2 linked regions of the Homo sapiens genome follow. The protein of the gene in region 2 purifies or fractionates together with the protein of the main gene of each other region. This does not show direct contact. Each region holds a gene or a part of one and is shown on either strand. Other genes may lie near its edges.

The links. Proteins that work in one complex are often made in the same cells at the same time.
Region 1: the proteins of ZNF316 (region 2) and MACROH2A2 purify together in Homo sapiens (co-immunoprecipitation; one large-scale study listed by IntAct). This does not show direct contact.

What each region holds. Positions count from the first base shown.
Region 1 is NC_000010.11:70,073,346-70,076,845, reverse strand, and holds part of MACROH2A2 (core histone macro-H2A.2), read right to left. Parts: intron 1,247-3,500; 5' UTR 1,188-1,246; coding exon 1,016-1,187; intron 1-1,015. UniProt on the Homo sapiens protein: Variant histone H2A which replaces conventional H2A in a subset of nucleosomes where it represses transcription. Nucleosomes wrap and compact DNA into chromatin, limiting DNA accessibility to the cellular machineries which require DNA as a template.
Region 2 is NC_000007.14:6,647,318-6,650,817, forward strand, and holds part of ZNF316 (zinc finger protein 316), read left to right. Parts: intron 1-3,500. UniProt on the Homo sapiens protein: May be involved in transcriptional regulation.

The sequences.
Region 1 (3,500 bases), on a different chromosome or scaffold from region 2:
GAAAAACCAGCAGAAAAGAGGAATCTGGGGACAGAAGAGAGGACCAGCCCTGCCACAGCCCAGAGGATTTCATGCAGTGAGGCTTGCCTCCCCAGTGTTAGACCATCTGGGGAGGTTTGCTTTTTAACCTGGCAGAATTTCCAAGGAACTTAACCTTGGTGTCTAGGGAATTTGTTAACCTTGGGCAAAGTCAGAGACATTGTTGCTCGTGGCTATTACCCAACAAGGGACTAAATCATACTTATTGTACATATATATTTATATATTTTATTTGTAAATACTTCTGAAAAGCACCCCTGATATTGTAAAGTTTGGTTTCTATTTAACTATGACATAAGAGAACAACAACAAAAAAGCTAAAGAGAAAGTTACTAAGATAAAGAACACACACAGCAAAATCTCATCTTTCAGTAAAAAAATTAACTTTAACAACAAATATGGGAAACTATTTTCTGTGCACCCCTATTAGACGAGAATCACCTCAGTGAAGGAGAGCAAAATTAGAACATTACATCGGCTTCATGCCAGCACCTGAAAGATGCTTTTAATGATGCGATAAATGTTATTTATGGACCCTGAGTCCCAGTTTAAATATACCAGGAAAACTAATGTTTAATGAGCAATTTGATGTAAAAAGACTCCCTTTTACAAAATGAATATCAAATCCCCCATTCTCCCTGCAGTTTATTTTCTTCAGGAGCTTAGATATTTATATATTGCATTCGCTTAAAGCAAGACATATCTTTTGCAGGACTGGTCTAGGAGGGCCACTTACTTGATTGTGGGTTCTCCGCCTTCCATGCTGATCACCTGTCCTTCCTATACCCTCTTCTCTCCCCTAAAGTCTGCAGAAGTTGATTTTAGCCAAGCAGGCCAGTTGCAACCCTGTCACCACCCACAGTAGCCTTGAGCCAGCCAAAAGGCAATTTGGAGCATCCCTCCCCAGCCTGCGAGGGGGACCCAGGGGAGGGTGGGGACCTGGGAGCAGGCAGCCTCCTTTGCGTGTCCTCATTACCTGCCAGGTACTCAATGACTGCCGCCATGTAGACAGGGGCGCCCACGCTGATCCGGTACTTGAACGTCCCTTTCTTCAGATAACGCATCAGCCTCCCCACTGGAAAGATGACACCTGCCCTAGCTGAACGGGACAGCTTGGACATTTTCTTCTTCCCACTCCGGCCCGACATCTTGCTTCAGTTTCCCTCTCAGCTTGCTGACACAGTGGCCTCCCGGCACTAACACAATGCTAAAAAGGAAAGAAGACAGAGTTGAGGAAGGGTAGTTGGCAAACATCTTGGGCACAGTGGCATGGCCCTTGGGCACCACTGTGACACCTCTGACTGCCCTGGGGAGGCAGCTGAAATCTGGCTGCTACTGCAGGTGCAGGAGGCACGGAGTCAGGCATGGGGTCTCTGAAGGGCATGGGCAAGCCCACCCACAAACATCCCTCCCCCACCAAAGCAGCCTGACCTCAAGAGGAAAGGCCACAGAAAACTGTCACTGAATAGGGAGGTCTCGGTCCTGTGGTCAGCTGAACAATGATCCCCAAAGATGTCAATTTCCTCATCCCCAGAACCTGTGACTGTTATCTTATATGACAGAGACTTTGCAGATGGGATTAAGCTAAGGGTCTTGAGATGGGGAGGTTTATCTTGGATTATCTGGATGGGGCTAACATAATTGCCTTAGAAGACGGAGGCAGGGGGTCAGAGTGGGCAGTAAGAGATGTGAGAACAGAAGGAAAAGGATTTTCCCCTCAAAGCCATCAGAAGGAATTAGTCCTGCTGATACCTTGACTTTAGCCCAGTAAGGCTAATTTTGGACTTCTGACCCCTGAACTATAAGAAAATAAATTTGTATTGTTTTAAACACTAAGTTTGGGGTAATTTGTTCCAGCAACAATAAGAAAACTAATACAATTCCTCTTGGCTTATATGACTTTGCCCATTATAATGGTTAGTGTATTAGTCTGTTCTCACACTGCTAATAAAGATGTATCCAAGACTGGGTAATTTATAAAGAAACAGAGGTTTAATGCACTCACAGTTCCACGTGGCTGGGGAGGCCTCACAATCATAGTGGAAGGTGAAAGGCACGTCTTATATGGCAGTAGACAAGAGAGAATGAGAACCAAGCGAAAGGGGTTTCCTCTTATAAACCCATCAGATCTCGTGAGACTTATTCACTACCACGAGAATGGTATGGGGGAAACCACCCCCATGATTCAATTATCTCCCACCAGGTCCCTCCCACAACATGTGGGAATTATGGGAGCTATAATTCAAGATGAGATTTGGGTGGGGACACAGCCAAACCATCCGTTAGGTTTGACAGACATAACTGAGAGCTGATGTGTATTTTTTAGACACTTTTCTAAATCCTGCAATAATGTAGCACTCAGAAATGGAAACAGGCCAGAAGAGGCAGTTTTACTGAATATGTGTGGTATGCAAACATAGCAAATGAAAAGCCATAATGCAGCCTGAGCGTCTGTTCCTTGGAATGAGGAATCCAGGTTGATTTTGGGAGAAACTTCACAGTCAGCACAAAGAGGTGAATTCAGCACCAGGAACTAAGAGAGAAACATTCACTGTTGCTTAAGGAAGCTATCTTTTGTGTGAAGACAAAATAATCACATATTCCTGGACAGAGTCTTTGTAAGCCCACCCACAATCTAGAAAATTGTAGTAGATCTTGGGTAGGCTTGGTCTGCTGGTTGACAGGGTACCGTAACCGACAAATGGAATATAATCTTCAGTAAGTAAAAGCAAATTACAAGGGACAAACGGTCAGGAGCAAAGAAAAGGAAAATGACATTTTCTAGGAAATGTGTTAATATATCAAAGCTCTCTTCCCCAAGGTCAATGGCGTTCTCAGGGGCCGTTTCCTCTGGAGATGAAAAATGAGAAAGTCAGAACAAATTGAAATTGGTTCTATCCATTGATCCTGGTTAGGTCATCATACCAACAGGCAAGATGGCAAAGGAAAGGAGGGCCCAAGAAAGTCCCTAAATATGACAGAAGAAGATATTAAATGAATGCTTGGTTAATATGAAATAGATACAAAACCAGGATTTACTTAATCTAGGTGAAAGAGTGAACAGATTTCAATTTTCTAAAGCATCTGATAACTCCATTACGACCAAGGAGACTATATTAAAAGCTCTGAAATTAGCAACAAAGCCCTTTCTCAACTCTCACCTGTCCCCGAGGTGAATGATTCAAGTTTGGGGCATTTTAGTATATACTTCATATACATTATTTAAAATGCTCATATGTACTTACTACTCCCCTATTTTATACTTCATATGTCGTTTTGCCACCAAAGGATGTAGCTATTCATCAGTTAGGTACAAGCAAAGATGAGAGAAGTGCCTTAGACTATTATCTCTTTGACTGCAAGGCCCAGAGATCAGGCAATGTTGCCATGTTGTTTTATCACGTTGTTTCTTCATCTGGAAGAAACAAGATCTCCCACCTTTGCCGTGCTGCTGCTGTCTG
Region 2 (3,500 bases):
TGCGCCCGAGAGCCCCGCCTCCCCCAAGCACCAATGTGTGGGGCCAGTGCCACCCTCATCCCCCTGACAGTTTGCAGAAGAGAGTGCTGCTAATGCCTATGGACTTGGGCGTGTCACCCTTGTCCTCCACCTCCTTTGCGACTGTCCCCCGTGAGAGAAGATCTCCCTAAGGCCATCTGGAGTTTGTGTCTGAATGGAGAAAGTTGCACTGGCCGGGTGAGGGGAGGGAGCAGGTGTTGGCTTCACTCGGAACTGACTTCCACAGCCTGCGCTCCAGGCCAGGCCCCAGTGGATGGGTTGTCAGAGGGAGAGAAGTGGCGCTGTTCAGTCAGCCAACTCCGTGGACTCGCCGTGGGGCCCAGGTCAGGTTGGGCCTGGAGAGCAGGTTCCAGACTCCGAGATGGGCAGAGGTTGCCCAGGAGTGGGAGTCGTAGATGGTGGCGGCCTGGTGCCATGGGTGGTGTGTGTGGGCTACACCGAGCAGCATCCCTCAGTGATGTGAGATGTGTGTGGGGTCCCGTGGCAGGTTGGGACCGTGTCTTCTGGGTCAGGCATGTGGCTGTGGGGCCACTGTCTTCCCCACAGCCGCTGTGATTAGTGTCCTACATAGGGCCCCCACGCTGTGCCCAGGGCAGGGCACTTACCAGACTGTTCTGGGGGCTGTGCTGCTGGGGACATTGGTTGGCCCCTGGGATCACCACTGCCTCCCACACAGTTAAACCAGGGCCTGGGGACAGAAGCTGGAGAGCCTGCAGTTGTGTTGGTGGGATTCTGGGTAAATGCCCGGCTTTGGTGATGCCGACGAGCACCCTCCCAGGTGTAGGGACCTTTGTGCCTCCAGGGCCTGAGGGCCTTGGCACTGCACCAGCCACTGGTGAGCAGGAGGGCACTAGTGTGGGCTGGAGGGTGCCCCGCCCCTCCTGTCCAGTCCAGGAGGCAGCCTGCCCCCGGGGCACAGGGCTGGCCAGGGGCCTATCTAGGATTAGGGACTGTGGCCCAGCCTCAAGAGGAAAGGCCTTGGTGGGGATCTGTGGCCACCAGGACCTGATGGCAGGAAAGGAGCATCGCCTGACATTTGGGGGACAACTTGAGCGGTGACCAACAGAAAGCATGGGATGGACAGCAGGGGGCCTTGGCATCTGCAGGGAACTGTGGTGGCAGCAGCGCCACCTGACCCGGGGAGCAGTGGAGGTGCTTCTGCAGCCGCATCGCAGGTGTTTACGGATGTGCATTTCATCCTGGCAGCAGTCCCACCAAGTGGATTGCAGGTGCTGTTATCAACCCATTTTACAGATGGGAAAACTCAGATTTAAGGCCTTGCCCAAGGTCCTATGGCCAGTGCGTCATAGGAGTGGAATTCACACCCAGACAGAGCCCGGGCCCCCCAGCTGCCTTTTGAGGTGAAGCCAAGGGAGAGAAGGTGTAGCATCCCGGCCTGGCCCCTGCCGTCCTGGCGGAACTGAGCAGATGTGGGGCTTCAGCCTGCAGGAGGGTTGCTGCGGGCACAGGGGAGTAGTGAGCCTTGAGGGACATCTCAGCATTAAGGTTCAAAGGGGAAGCCTCTAAAGACGCCACTCATGCTAGGGAGCAGCTGTGCCTGGTGCTGATGCCTGTGGAGGGAGGTGGGGGGATCGTTCCTGTGACAGCCCCAGCCCCAGCCCTGAGCCTTTCATTCATTCCCTTGCACCCAGCCTGCTGGGGTGGTCTCCCTCTCCATCAGCTCCTGTCACCTGCCGCTGGATGGGGGGGGTCTTAGTGTTCCCAGTTCAGGACATGGGCCGTGAAGGTTCTTGTGGCCATACTCTGGAAGCTTCTCCCTCCCTAGACAGAGCTGACTTTGAGCCTCTGATCGGCCTCTCCTTTTTATCACTGAGCCCTTGTGGTCCCTCTTCCGGAAGCCTAGCTGCATGTTGCTAGGTCAGAGTCCTTAGGCCTAAACGTGAGGTGCAGGGGAGAGGGACCGTCAGTCCCAGGGTCTCCTCTCCTCTGCTGTCCCCTGGGTTCTGGAGGAAGCAGGTGTGTTGGGTACCCTGGGCTGCTGTCGCATGGTTCCTGCCCCAGTGCCCTCCAGCTGTTGAGAAACATGCACCAGCCCCTCCTAGTCAGCCTCCTGTTGCCCCGGCTTGGGTCTGATGAGTTGAGCTGTGATGAGGCCTGACTTAGATCTGGAAAACGGCTTTGGATCTGAGAGCCAGCAAACGCCCTCGGGGCCTTGTCCCTGGAGCCCTGTTGGCTGAACACCCTCACTCAAGGATGTTCCCGTGGACTTCGACAGAGCCTGGCCTGGGGCAGGCTGGTCTCCCTCTGGGACCCTTCCCAGGGGCCCTGCTACTTCCTGGGAGCTCCCCTTAGAGTGCAGCCCGCTCAGACTCCCCAGGGACTTGGATGTCCTTCCCCTCCTGCACTCGGTGTCAATGGTGGCCTGTCACCATGCCATATGCTGGAGTGTGGCCCACCCTTGTCCCAGTTGTTGGACAAGTGGCCATGCCAGCTCCAGAGCTGGCGGGGGGTGCCCTCTCTACAGATCCCACTGGGATGGGGGCTCCCTGCCTACCTCCCCAAGTGAGAGGATTCCCTGCTGCGATCAGGATCAAGGGAGAGGTGATGGGAGGAGCCTCCCAGCTCTGGGCAGCTGAGACTTCTGTGGGCAAGGCCGCCCTTGGCCTGGGAGTCCAGTTCTTTGAGGCTTATTATCCAGTAAATGCTCGCTGAGTCTTGGCTGTTTCCTGAGGTACCGATGCACCCCGCTACAAAATCATAGTTGTTCCTAGGCTTGAACCTTCCCCGTTTGGAGGGGTCTCTAAACCCAAGACCTGCATCAGAGCCTCAGGGTGAGATCCTTTCGAGCTCTCTGCCAGCCTCCCTATCCTGTAGGGTTGGGGTATAGGGCTGGGGTGCAGCAGCCTTCCCAGACCTGGGGAGTGTGGCTGCCAGTCGGGGAAGGGTGGCCACTGATGGGGACGGGGCTTTTCTTTGCTGCTCTGTGCACGGAGTGGCTGTGGGTGGCAGTTCGAGGTAGACTCAACTTAGTGACAAGAAACCTTTTTATTTCAAGCTTACGTTTACTATGATAGTAAACCGATAAAGTATCATGAAATGTGAAAGATGCAGTAACCCGTTTTCTGACCCTTTTCTATGATGCCTGTTTTTTCACAGTGAAGCCGGGCCTGTGTGGGTCTGTGTTTTCCTGCGGCTCTAGGTCCCCATATGGAATGTATGTGGGACGAGGCAGTGCCAAGGGCATGCAGCCTGGCAGGGGCCAGCGTGCGACATGAGGGGCTACCCGAGGCCTACTGGGACCTCCTGGGCTCCGACTTTCCCTCTAGGGCAGCACTCAGTGGTCCAGGCTTATCCAGCTAGGTGACGGCTGAAATGGGCAGGGGACCCAGGTGGGGTGAGGAGGAGATTTCCACACCAGCTGTGGGAGCTGGAACCTTCCAGATGCTGAGACTGTCGGGCAGACACCAGGAGGGTCCATGAAGGTGCCTTAGAGCATCTGG